2 linked regions of the Homo sapiens genome follow. The protein of the gene in region 1 purifies or fractionates together with the protein of each later gene. This does not show direct contact. Each region holds a gene or a part of one and is shown in the gene's direction. Other genes may lie near its edges.

Region 1 (7,028 bases):
ATTGTATGTTCTGTTTCTTGCTATTACTAGACAAGAAAGTGAAAATTGGGACTGAACAAAACATCCCATTTCTGTTTAATAAATATAGCCAGTAATTCTTTGTGCTGTTTTGATTGATACTGGGCTGGGTAGATCTGCTTTGTTGCCAGACTTTTAGCCCTGTGCTGCCTGATAGCCAGTTGTCACGTGTGGCTGTTGAGCCCTTGAATGTGATTAATATAAATTGAGATGTGCTGTAAGTGTAAATACACACTGGATTTCAAAGTACATAAAAGCTAGTATTAGTTTAGTAATGAAGTTGCAAATATTTCAAATTAACCACATTTGAGCTTCAAAAGCTGAGCCACAAGATTAAAAATGAGTAAAATATCATCTGCATTTTGATAAATGTTGCTTAGTGTCATCTGGCATAATACAGTTTTTTGGTTATAGTGGACATTTGTATTTTCTTAGAACCATTAAAATAGTTATGAAAATGTGTTTTAGGATTATCAACTGGAAAACTAAGCTTTATCATTATTGTGTTGTTTTAATTATTTTATGTATTTGGATTTATTAATTCAACTTTGAAAATCTGTTTTTTCCCATGATTCCATGTAGTGGCACCCAATCAGTGTTTATTCAACTACTGAGGTTGTTGTCCTTTGAAAGAATCAAACCTGTGGTGTGGTCATCAGGTGGCAATGATTGTTGCAGTCCAGATAACCAGATTTGAGAGTTTACTTTTCTGTTCGTTGACATGGTTTGGCTCTGTGTCCTCACCCAAATCTCATCTCAAATCGTAATCCCCATGTATCAAGGGAGGGACCTGGTGGGAAGTGATTGAATCATGGGGGCCATTTCCCCCATGTTGTTCTGGTAGTGAGTTCTCATGAGATCTGATAGTTTAAAAGTGTGTGGCAGTTCCCCCTTCTTTCTCTCTCCTGCCACCACGTAAGATGTGCCTTGCTTCCCCTTCATCTTCTGCCATGATTTAAGTTTCCTGAGGCCTCCCAATTATGGAACTGTGGGTCAATTAAACCTCTTTTCTTTATAAATTACCCAGTTTCAGGTAATTCTTTATAACATTGTGAAAATAGACTAATACAATCATCATTAACCTTATGTTATTACAGAATTTTAATAGTTTTTTAAAAGCAATTTCATAATTAGTTAATTTACTTCTCTCAGCAACTTGGTAGAAGTTGAACAAGAGAGAATAAACGCTGCCCTTAAGCTCACATATGTAGTATTACTAGTTGTCTGGTTGTCTATCTTAGGCCAATCCTTATACAAAATTCTTGACTTACATTAGGTCATTTAATCCTGAGAACAACCACCTGTGGTATGAATTTATTATTCCACTTTTACAAGTATGGAGGCTGAGGCTTAGGGATAGGAGGAGTTTTGCTTACATTTACATAGTTTGTAAGTGTTAAAGCTGTGGTTCAAATCCAGGCGTACCTGACTTCAAAGTCCCAATTCTTCTTCACCCCCAGTTGTACTATCAAAGAACATTTTCCTTTGAACCTATTTAGGAAAGAAGAGTTGAAGATAGAATTCAGTTCCATTTGCATATTGATCTTTTAAAATTGTTAACCACAGCATAATCTAACCTTATTTTAATCCCAGTTTAGTAAACAGTGACCTTTTCTAATATACACATGCATTTTTTTCTCCCCATTGTTATATATACACCACATTTTCTTTTTTTTCTCCCTAACTTTTATTTTAGGTTCAGGGGTACATGTGCAGGTTTGTTACATGGGTAAATTGCATGGCTTGGGGATTTGGTACAGATTATCACCCGGGTAATAAGCATAGTGTCTGATAGGTAGTTTTTCTTTTCTTTTTTTTTTTTTTTCTGAGACGGAGTTTCACTTTTGTTGCCAAGGCTGGAGTGCAGTGGCGCGATCTCAGCTCACCTCAACCTTCGCCTCCCAGGTTCAAGCAATTCTCCTGCCTCAGCCTTCCAAGTAGCTGGGATTACAGGCATGCATCATGAAGCCTGGTTAAGTTTTGTATTTTTAGTAGAGACGGGGTTTCTGCATGTTGGCCAGGCTGGTCTCGAACTCCCGACCTCAGGTGTGAGCCATCACGCCCGGTCCCTGATAGGTAGTTTTCAATCCTCATGCTTCTCCCATCCTCTGCCCGCAAGTAGGCCTCAATGTTTATTGTTCCCTTCTTTGTGTCCATGTGTACTCAGTGTTTAGCTCCTACCTATCAACATGTGGTATTAGTTTTCTCTTCCTGCATTAATTCACTTAGGATAATGGCCTCCAGTTCCATCAGTGTTGCTGCAGACTACATGCTCTTGTTCTTTTTTATGGCTGGGTAGTATTCCATGGTGTCTGCATACCACATTTTCTTTATCCAGCCCACCATTGATGGGCATTTAGGTTGATACCGTATCTTTGCTATTGTGAATAGTGCTGCAATTAACATGTGCACACGTGTTTCTTTATGGTAGAATGATTTCTATTCCTTTGTAGAAATAGTCCCATTAATGGGACTGCTGGATTGAATGATAGTTCTAAGTTCTTTGAGAAGTCTCCCAACTGCTTTCCACTGTGACTGAACTAATTTATGTTCCCACCAGCAGTGTATAAGCATTCATTTTTCTTTGCAACCATACCAGCATCTGTTATTTTTTGACTTTTTAATAATAGCCATTCTGATTGATGTGGAATGGTATTTATTTCATTGTGCTTTTGATTTGCATTTCTCTAATAAGCAGTGATGTTGAGCATTTTCTCATATGCTTGTTGGCCACATATACACATAAATCTTTATGTTTGAAGGTGCAGACCCCTTTTGGTCTCAAATAGACCCTTTTGGCCGCTTCGAGTTCAGCTATTAACCTTCAGGTGGTTCAGTGCTTTCCTTACACTTTCCCATATAATATCTCCACTCCCCACAGCATACACAGGCTATTAGAACTAAAGTATGGTCTTTTTTTTTTTTAATCTCTGTGACTTAAAATAGGTTCTGATCAACTCTGACTCCCATATGTTCTCTTGAGTTGGTAAAAGTTGAAAAGTTATCTGCATTGGATAGAGATATTTCAAACACAATACTCACTGCTGCGTCACTACATATCCTAACCCCCATTTTCAGCCTACGGGAGGAAGGAAACATCCTTTCTTAGAAACTGTCAACCTTTCTGATATGAATTTACAGCTGATGACTATTTCTTGTGGGAATTTACTATTCTAGTTTTAAGCCTTTGTATAAAGGTTAAAACTTAGTTCCAGCTTTTTCATATCCTCCTTTGAACCTGTTTTTGAAAAGACTAAATACCAGCCAGAAGAAATATCTTAAAAATACATTACCTTTCAGGTGGTGTAAGTCAGTTTGGACAGAAGGCACACTGAAAAATGCTTAAGTATTATTTGTTCTTTATAATTTCTTGTTTAGATTTTAAGACCTTTATCCTAAAGAATGTCACTCCTTTCTTCTTAGTGTACCTCGGTATGATCAACCACCTCCTGTCACATACCAGCCACAGCAAACTGAAAGAAATCAGTCCCTTCTGGTACCTGCAAATCCATATCATACTGCAGAAATTCCTGACTGGCTTCAGGTTTACGCACGAGCCCCTGTGAAGTAAGTACATTTACAACACAAATTTGTTTGAGGAGTGAGTGAAGGGCTGAATGGAGTCTCTGGGCTGCTCGATCCAAGTAGTGTGCCATATTTTACTCTTAATAATATTCGGCTTCTAAGTAATACGTGACTTGAATAAAGGATGTCATAGTTTATAATGTGTGAAAATCATTAATTAGAAATATTAGTTCTTCAGACATTTATAGAATCTTCATTTCTTTGTGTGCGGGCCTCTGCTATTAGGGATACAAGTAAGAAACTTACATTCTCATAGGAGAAGATTAATTTGTAAATAAGTGATACAGTACTTGTGATAAAAGTAAGGACCTGGGCTTGGCACAGTGGCTCACACCTGTAATCCCAGCACTTCGGGAGGCTGAGGCAGGAGGATCTCTTAAGTCCAGGAGTTCGAGACCAGTCTAGGCAACATAACGAGAGCCCCATTTCCACAGAAAAATTTTAAAAATTAGCCAGGCTTTTTGCATGGTCTGTAGTCCCAAGTACTTGGGAGGCTGAGGTGGGAGGATAGCTTGATCTGAGGAGTTCAAGTTCAGCCTGAGCAACATAGCAGGACTCTGTCTCTATAAAAAATTTAAAAATTAGCAGCATGCTGTGGTGTATGCCTGTGATCTCAGCTACTTGGGAGGCTAAGGTGGGAGGACTGCTTGAGCCCAGGAGTTTGAGGCCGCAGTGAGCTATGCTTGTGCCACTGCACTCCAGCCTGGGTGACAGAGCATGAGAGACCCTGACTGCCCCCCTACTAGTGCCAGAAAAAGGAATGATAGCAGATGGCATTTTCTTTCCTATTTTCCTCTTTTCTTTGTCCCTTGATACCACCTGACCTACAGCTGTATGTTTGTATGCTGATTCTAAATAGTACATAATATCTGTATGCGTTTTTATTTTCCTTAAATCTGGAAGAATATGTGCCTAACTGTTAACCTTAGTATTTCTGGGGGTGGATATGGTTGAGGAGAGTTATTCTTTCTGTTGTATGTTATTTCTACTCTATAGTCATGTTTAATAAGAAATAGCATAATCTTTCCTTTTTGGGGGAAGAGATAGTACTTAAATGGAATTCCTGGTTTCTTACAGAAAGAAACAGATTCCTGAAGATTATAGTCTTTTTGAATTCTGTGGTTCTGTGAGCTAACTATAAAACTCAAGGAAACTAGCAAATAGGTTGTAATTCTTCCAAAATGGGCCAGACTGACAAAAAGGGAGCAAGTACTATACTTCTTTACTGCTTAAAAACTTAAACAAGAGGTCTGGAAGCCTGTTGCTTTCTAGTTGATTCTAATTAATGTTGCTGAAGAGGATGGAAATGGTTAATATTCTATCAACAAAGGGTGAGTGGTTATCTATGAATTAGATAATGAGAATCAATTATCACAACAAAAAGAGACATTTTTGCAAAAAAAATTTGCATGTTTCTTCCTTTTGTTTTTCAGACAATTGAGAATCTGAAATTCTTTAATCCTGAAATTCTTTAATCCTATCTCTCACAGTAATTTACCAACACAATTTTTGCATATACTTCTAAAACTTGATTTAGAAACAGACTGTGTTTTAAATTTGTATTTAATTTTTGTAAAGTTATGTTCCTGTGTCTGCTCACAAAAGTCTATAATGCTTGGTATAACTGTACTCAAGCTGAACTATAGGATAAAATTTTAAAAGTTAGGCCGGGTGCGGCGGCTCATGCCTGTAATCCCAGCCCTTTGGGAGGCTGAGGCGAGTGGATCACAAGGTCGAGAGATCGAGACCATCCTGGCTAACACAGTGAAACTCTGTATCTACTAAAAATACAAAAAATTAGCTGGGTATGGTGGCACGCGCCTGTAGTCCCAGCTACTCGGGAGGCTGAGGCAGGAGAATCATTTGAACCCGGGAGGCGGAGGTTGCAGTGAGCCAAGATTGCGCCATTGCACTCCAGCCTGGGTGACAGAGCGAGACTCCATCTCAAAATAAAATATAATAAAATAAAATTTAATCTTTGACAGCAAAAACATTGTCAAGAACATATTTACTTTCTGTTATTTCTCACACACACACCAAAACACTAGTCCTCAGCAGTGTGTGGCAGGGGTATTTTTTATTCCAGTGGCTTGGCAGTCCTGCAGTGTCACCATTGACCCTGCTCTGGATACAGGTGAAAAAGAGGGAGGAGTGGACACAGTGTTATGGCGGGTGGGTGCAGGGGACTTAGGCTACATGGTGATACCTGGAGCTGAGGATAGCAGCACTGTTGATCTTGAAGTCAGCATGCAGTGTGGACAGGTTATTTTTGGTAGCATTATAGCAACTGGCATTTGTATATATGGCTTATTTATAAGTAGTATTTGAATAGAATACTGCCCTAGGAAAAACAGAGTGAAAGAGATGCTAGAAGCATGGACTACTGGAGTGTTTTACACCCAATTTTCGGAATGATTTACCTGTGTATATACAGTATAAATGACTAAAAGTTAAACTTGTGGAAGCAAATTTCTTGGCTAGTTAAGAAGGAAAGAATGGGAGTTTATACTTTTCAGAAAAAGAAGGAACACTTAGGTGATTATAGGCAGAAGGGTAGTAACTATGTAGAAGCAACAGAGGAAAGAATTTGGAATAGGATTTCCATTCCATGCTTTGCAGTTTTTTCACATCTGTGCCCTTCTTGGAGTGCACTTTCTTCCCCCAGAAGGATTTTCTCTAATCTGATTTTGTTGCTTCTACCCATAATCGTACTCTTGATGCTGAATGCTGATTGGCAAGTCAGAAACTTGGCCAGGCATGGTGGTGCACCTGTAATCCAAGCTACTTGAGAGGCAGAGTCAGGATTGTTAGAGCTTAGGAGTTCTGGGCTGTGATGCACTATGCCAGTCGGATGTCTGTACTCTTTGGCATCAGTATGGTGACCTCCCAGGAGCAGGGACCACCAGGTTGCCTAAGGAGGGGCGAACTGGCCCAGGTTGGAAAGGGAGCAGGTTAATACTACTGTGCCGATCAGTAGTGGCATTGTGCTTGTGATTAGCCACTGCACTTCAGCCTGGGAGACATAGGAGATCTTCATCTCTTAAAAAAAAAAAAAAAAAAAAAAAAACTGACAAAATTGTTTGAAGATTTTTTCTTCCTTTAGACAAAACTTGAATACTTATACAGAATGATATTCGTGTCTTAAAAATAAGTATAATATTTACCATCTTATTTTTGTTCTTTGTTTTCCTTGCTAGAAAGTACACAGATGATAGATTAGTTTAACATTGTTGTAGTTCACCTGGTATAAATGGTAACCATCTTGACTTAGTAGACATTGCTGAATTGCCTCTTAGCTAACTCTGGGAGATTAAGATTTTTTGTTAGGAATTATGAATTTGTTTCCAAGGAGCACATAAAATCTTAAGTTACAAGAATGGTGGATGTTCTAAGAAATACCTTATAACTGTTTCTTCATGGAGGCT
Region 2 (7,028 bases), on another chromosome or scaffold:
CGCCGCGCGCGCACGTGGCCTTCCGGCCTGACTGCCCAGTGCCCAGCAGGACCAACTCCTTCAACAGCCACCAGCCGCGGCCCGGTCCGCCTGGCAAGGCCGAGCCCTCCCTGCCCGCCCCCAACACCGTGACGGCTGTCACGGCCGCGCACATCTTGCACCCGGTGAAGAGCGTGCGTGTGCTGAGGCCGGAGCCGCAGACGGCTGTGGGGCCCTCGCACCCCGCCTGGGTGCCCGCGCCTGCCCCGGCCCCCGCCCCCGCCCCCGCCCCGGCTGCGGAGGGCTTGGACGCCAAGGAGGAGCATGCCCTGGCGCTGGGCGGCGCAGGCGCCTTCCCGCTGGACGTGGAGTACGGAGGCCCAGACCGGAGGTGCCCGCCTCCGCCCTACCCGAAGCACCTGCTGCTGCGCAGCAAGTCGGAGCAGTACGACCTGGACAGCCTGTGCGCAGGCATGGAGCAGAGCCTCCGTGCGGGCCCCAACGAGCCCGAGGGCGGCGACAAGAGCCGCAAAAGCGCCAAGGGGGACAAAGGCGGAAAGGATAAAAAGCAGATTCAGACCTCTCCCGTTCCCGTCCGCAAAAACAGCAGAGACGAAGAGAAGAGAGAGTCACGCATCAAGAGCTACTCGCCATACGCCTTTAAGTTCTTCATGGAGCAGCACGTGGAGAATGTCATCAAAACCTACCAGCAGAAGGTTAACCGGAGGCTGCAGCTGGAGCAAGAAATGGCCAAAGTAATTTCACACTTCATTTTTACTATTTGTTCCCGGCTCATCCCTCTACTGGCAATAGGAAGCACGCACAATCCCTTTTCTGTTTCGACTGTATACCCCTTATCATCAAAACGGCTAATGGGCGACAGTCTGGTTCTGGGGCCAACAACTTGGAGAAGTTGCAAATGGTGTGACCTCCCTTTCGCCTTTCCCCTTGACTCTTCTGAAGAATCAGAGATAGCTGTGCATAATGTAGCCAGCGTAATGTAGGTAATCTACAATTTACATTGTAGGTAAATTAGCAAATTAAGTTTTAGGGTATGTCCTCGCTTAACAAAATTCATCATGGATTAATAATAGAACATTTGAATGAGTAGAAACAAAGTTTAAGGTTTTGTAAATTGAGATTGTGGGATTTTGGAAGAAAAATGTATCTAGTAGTGATTCCATTTATTCTTTTAAGTGTTTAGTTAGTAACTAATGATTTAAATATACCTTAGTTGACACTGAAGTGCTGAAGAAGGTAATTATTGATGAAACTATTTAAATTAAAATGTAACAGATTTAAATCACACAAAGCCAATAATTCCAAAGCCTGAAAACCAGATTTGTGTTCTTTTCAGTGTCCCGTATTCACTGATTTTTTTACAGATATACTTTTCATTTGTGTTTTTTTTATTTTTATTTTTTATTTTTTAATTTATTTTTAGACGGAGTCTTGCTCTGTCACCCAGGCTGGAGCGCAATGGCGCGATCTTGGCTCGCTGCAACCTCTGCCTCCTGGGTTCAAGCGATTCTCCTGCCTCAGCTTCCCGAGTAGTTGGGGTTACAGGTGCCTACCACCACGCCTGGCCATTTTTTTGTGTTTTTAGTAGAGACGGGGGTTTCGCCATGTTGGTCAGACTGGTCTCGAACTCTTGACCTCAGGTGATCTGCCCACCTCGGCCTCCCCAAGTGCTGGAATTACACGTGTGAGCCACCACACCCAGCCGTTTATTTTTTATTTATACATAGTATTTGTAGATTTGTGGGGAACATGTGATATTTTGTTACATGCATAGGATATGTAATGATCAAGTCAAGGTATTTAGAGTATCCATTGCCTGGTGTATTTATCATTTCTGTGTTGGAAGCATTTCAAGACCTCTCTTCTAGCTATTTTGAAATATTGAATACATTTTTACTAACCATAGTCATACTAGTTAGAGTTTGTTCCTTCTATCCAGCTGTATGTTTGCACCAATTAACTTCTCATCTCCCCTCAACACACACACACCCTTTCCCACCTCTGGTAACTATCATTCTACTCTCTACCTCTATGAGATCAATTATTTTAGCTCCCACATATCAGTAACAGTGTGTGGTGTTCTAACCGAACTTCTGTTCCTGGCTTATTTCACTTAACATAATGACCTCCAGTTCCATTCATGTTGCTCCAAATGACAGGATTTCATTCTTTTTTATGGCTGAATAGTATCCCATGGTGTACACAGACCACATTTTCTTTATCTGTTCATCAGTTGATGGACACTTCAGTTGATTCCATGTTTTTACTGTTGTGAATAGTGCTGCAATAAACATGGGGTGCAGGTATCCCTTTGATATACTGATTTCCTTTCCTTTAGATAAATACCCAATAATGGGTTTGGTAGATTGTATGGTAGTTCTATTTTTAGTTTCTTTTTTTTCCTTTTTGATAATAGTCGTTCTAACTGGGGAGAGATTATATCTCATTGTGGTTTTCATTTGCATTTCCCTGATGGTTAATGAGCATCTTTCCATGCACCTCTTAGCCATTTGTGTATCTTCTTTTGACAAGTGTCTATTCAGGTCATTAGCTCACTTTTTTTTCTTTTTGAGACAGAGTTTCGCTCTTGTTGCCCAGGCTGGAGTGCAATGGCACGATCTCAGCTCACCACAACCTCCGCCTCCCGGGTTCAAGTGATTCTCCTGCCTCAGCCTACCGAGCAGCTGGGATTACAGGCATGCACCACCACGCCCAGCTAGTTTTATGTTTTTGTAGAGACAGGGTTTCACCATGTTGTTCAGGCTGGTCTCAAACTTCCGACCTCAGATGATCCACCTGTCTCAGCCTCCCAGGGTGCTGGGATTACAGGTGTGAGCCACCGCGCCTGGCCTTATTTTATTTATTTATTTTTTAATTAAGACGGAGTCTTGCTCTATTGCCCAGGCTGGAGTGCAGTGGTGAAATCTCGGCTCACTGCAACCTCTGCCTTCTGGATTCAAGCTATTCTCCTGCCTCAGCCTCCTGAGAGCTGGGACTACAGGTGTGCGACACCATGCTCAGCTAATTTTTGTATGTTTAGTAGAGACGGGGTTTCACCATGTTAGTCAGGCTGGTCTCAAACTCCTGACCTCAAGTAATCCGCCTGCCTCAGCCTCCCAAAGTGCTGGGATTACAGGCGTGAGCCACCATATCTGGCCTTTTGGCTTACTTTTTAATGGGATTATTTGATATTTTTTTTGCTGTTGAGTTGAGTTCCTTGTATATTCTGAATAATAGTCTTTTGTCAGATGAATAGTTTGTGAATATTTTCTCCTGTTCAACACAGGTATCCTCTTTACTCTGTTGTTTCCTTTGCTCTGCAGAAGCTTTTTAGCTTAATATAGTCCCATTTGTCTACTTTGGGGTTTTTTTGCCTGTGCTTTTGAGATTTTAGCCATAAAAATCTTTGCTCAAACCAATGTCCTGGAGTATATTTTCATAGCCTCTGGTCTTATTTCTAGGTCTTTAATCTGTTTTAAGTTGACATTCCTATATGGTGAGAGATTGGGGTCTAGTTTCATTCTTCTGCATATGGATATCTAGTTTTCCCAGCATGTCTCTTTTTCAGTGTACATTCTTGGCACCGTTGTCAAAAATCAGGTGGCTGTAAATACGTGGACTTATTTCTGGGTTCTCTATTCTGTTCCATTGGTCTATGTGTCTGTTTTTATACCAATACCATGCAGTTTCAGTTACTCTAGGCTTGTAACATATTTTGAAGTCAGGTAACAATTTTGTTCTTTTTGCCTAGGATTGCTTTGAGTATTTGGGCTCCCTGTGAATTTTAGTATTGTTTTTTCTAGTAATGTGAAAAATATCATTGGTATTTTGATAGGGATTGCATTTAATTGGTAGATTGATTTGGGTAGTATGGTCATTTTAACAATATTAAATCTTTCTGTCGGTGAACATGGGATCTCTTTTCATTTGTTTGTGTCCTCTTTAGTTTCTTTCTTCAGTGTTTTGTAGTTTTCTTTGTAGAGCTCTTTCACTTTTTGGTTAAATTTACTCCTAGATTTTTTTTATAGCTGTTGTAAATGGCATTCATTATTGGTGTACAGAAATCCAGATATCCATATGCAGAAGAATGAAACTAGACCCTATCTCTCACCATATACAAGTCTATCTAATGTATGCTACTGATTTTTGTATGCTGATTGTTGACTTTTCTTCCTGCTTTCCCATTTTCCCTGAGTTACTGAAAGATTAGATGGCTCTTGGAGTTCTAGGAATGCTGTGGTCCCCTTTTCCACAGATTTGTGTTAATAGAAGTTTCCCTTAGTTTTTAGAGCCAAAAGTATCCTAGAGAAAGAACTTTCTTTTTTATCTTAACTTTTCATTCCATATTCATGTCTATATATGGATATAAAAAAACAAAACTGGCCGGGCACAGTGGCTCAAGCCTGTAATCCCTGCACTTTGGGAGGCCAAGGTGGGCAGATCACCTGAGGTCAGGAGTTCAAGACCAGCCTGGCCAACATGATGAAACGCTGTTTCTACTAAAAATACAAAAATTAGCCAGGTGTCATGGTGGCGGGCACATGTAGTCCCAGCTACTCGGGAGGCTGAGACAGCAGAATCGCTGGAACCCAGGAGGCGGAGGCTGCAGTGAGCTGAGATTGTGCCACTGCACTCCAGCCTAGGCGACAGAGCGAGACTCTGTAGTATATGAGACCCATTCTTCTCTGTTCTCCTTTCTGTAAAATGAGCTAGGTTCCTCTCAGTTCCAGGGCATCCCCATCCCAGTCATTTGTTATCATGGGACTTCTCTAATGTGATTCTTCCTCCTTCCTTTTCCTTCTACACAGGCTGGACTCTGTGAAGCTGAGCAGGAGCAGATGCGGAAGATCCTCTACCAGAAAGAGTCTAATTACAACAGGTTAAAGAGGGCCAAGATGGACAAGTCTATGTTTGTCAAGATCAAAACCCTGGGGATCGGTGCCTTTGGAGAAGTGTGCCTTGCTTGTAAGGTGGACACTCACGCCCTGTACGCCATGAAGACCCTAAGGAAAAAGGATGTCCTGAACCGGAATCAGGTGGCCCACGTCAAGGCCGAGAGGGACATCCTGGCCGAGGCAGACAATGAGTGGGTGGTCAAACTCTACTACTCCTTCCAAGACAAAGACAGCCTGTACTTTGTGATGGACTACATCCCTGGTGGGGACATGATGAGCCTGCTGATCCGGATGGAGGTCTTCCCTGAGCACCTGGCCCGGTTCTACATCGCAGAGCTGACTTTGGCCATTGAGAGTGTCCACAAGATGGGCTTCATCCACCGAGACATCAAGCCTGATAACATTTTGATAGATCTGGATGGTCACATTAAACTCACAGATTTCGGCCTCTGCACTGGGTTCAGGTGGACTCACAATTCCAAATATTACCAGAAAGGTATTGTCTGAAGTGTGCCACATGCACTTTCTATGTGTAGATGTCACTAACCCCATTGCAAGCAACTAAATTTCCCATCCTAGTGGCTCCTAATCATTTTGAAATTTTTATCTGTCACTCCATTATTTTATAAATTGGTGTGACATCCTTCCCTTCCAAAAGGAATAGTGTGATATGCATTTTTTTTTAAGGTAGTGGATTTCAGGTTTACTTTTTTTTTTTTTTTTTTTTGAGACAGAGTTTCGCTCTTGTTGCCCAGGCTGGAGTGCAATGGCGTGATCTCGGCTCACTGCAACCTCTGCCTCCTGGGTTCAAGTGATTCTCCTGCCTCCAGCCTCCCGAGTAGCCGGGATTACAGTCACGCACCACCACCTCTGGCTAATTTTGTATTTTTAGTAGAGACGGGGTTTCTCCGTGTTGGTCAGGCTGGTCTCAAACTCCCAACCTCAGGTGATCCGCCTGCCTCCGCCTCCCAAAGTGCTGGGATTACAGGTGTGAGCCACCGTGCCTGGCCTACTATATTTTTAAGACAGTAGGCTACAAGGTGTCACGGGGCCTTTGTGGGGAACCATCACCTGCCTCATTAAAGCAAGCCTTAAAAAATAAAAGATTTGGCTGGGCATGGTGGCTCACGCCTGTAATCCTAGCACTTTGAAAGCCCAAGGTGGGCGGATCACCTGGGGTCAGGAGTTCGAGACCAGCCTGACCAACGTGGAGAAACCCCGTCTCTACTAAAAATAACAAAATTAGCCGGGCGTGGTGATGCATGCCAGTAATCCCAGCTACTGGGAGGCTGAGGCATGAGAATCGCTTGAACCCGGGAAGCAGAGGTTGCGGTGAGCTGAGATCGCGCCATTGCGCCCCAGCCTGGGCAACAAGAGCGAAACTCTGTCTCAAATAAAATAAAATAAATAAAAGAGTCACAGCCTCCCAAGGAGCCCTCTCTTATAGCCAACCTGCATCTATGTAGTGTATCATTGAACTCCATTTCCTATAGTTCTGCCATTTGGAAAAGCCAAAAACAGCTGATTATTATCTTCTTTATGGCTGAGATTCTTGAAGTAGTTATTTTAATATCATCACTTAGTCTTTTTTCTCTAACTCAAAACTAACTCTAAATCATTTAATTCATTCTCATTTTCTGGCATTGAAGTAACCTTTGTTCATGTTGTTTAAATCCTCCTAAGTTTTCCATGCTCATCTTAAAACATGTGTCAGGCAGTTGTTACCTTTTGATTATGGCCTAAGCGCTAGGAGTGCTGTCCCCGCAGTTCTTCCAGCCTCTCCTGCCTGCAGTGCCTTCCTGCCAGCTCAGCACGGTGCATGGTGTCCTGTGATTCTTCACCGTCATTTCTACCTTGGTGCTAGCGCCAACCTCACCACGTGTGTCTCCAAACTAGGAACAGCAGGCTGCCCCTATGGAGCAGCTCAGCGGGGATTCTCTGTCCTGATATGTCAGGAGCTGATTGGAATGACTTTGCTGTTTTAAGCTGTGGATCTGTTGAGTTATTGAAGAGTGAAAATTCACTTTATATTTTGTTCTTTTCTTTCACTATCCCTGATTCCTGGGTGAAGGGAGCCATGTCAGACAGGACAGCATGGAGCCCAGCGACCTCTGGGATGATGTGTCTAACTGT

Evidence for each region.
Region 2: the proteins of SAV1 (region 1) and LATS2 purify together in Homo sapiens (affinity purification with western blotting; 4 studies listed by BioGRID, with this or other methods). This does not show direct contact.

Annotation. Positions count from the first base shown.
Region 1 is NC_000014.9:50,637,307-50,644,334, reverse strand, and holds part of SAV1 (protein salvador homolog 1), read left to right. Parts: intron 1-3,441; coding exon 3,442-3,585; intron 3,586-7,028. UniProt on the Homo sapiens protein: Regulator of STK3/MST2 and STK4/MST1 in the Hippo signaling pathway which plays a pivotal role in organ size control and tumor suppression by restricting proliferation and promoting apoptosis.
Region 2 is NC_000013.11:20,981,587-20,988,614, reverse strand, and holds part of LATS2 (serine/threonine-protein kinase LATS2), read left to right. Parts: coding exon 1-734; intron 735-4,808; coding exon 4,809-5,391; intron 5,392-6,966; coding exon 6,967-7,028. UniProt on the Homo sapiens protein: Negative regulator of YAP1 in the Hippo signaling pathway that plays a pivotal role in organ size control and tumor suppression by restricting proliferation and promoting apoptosis.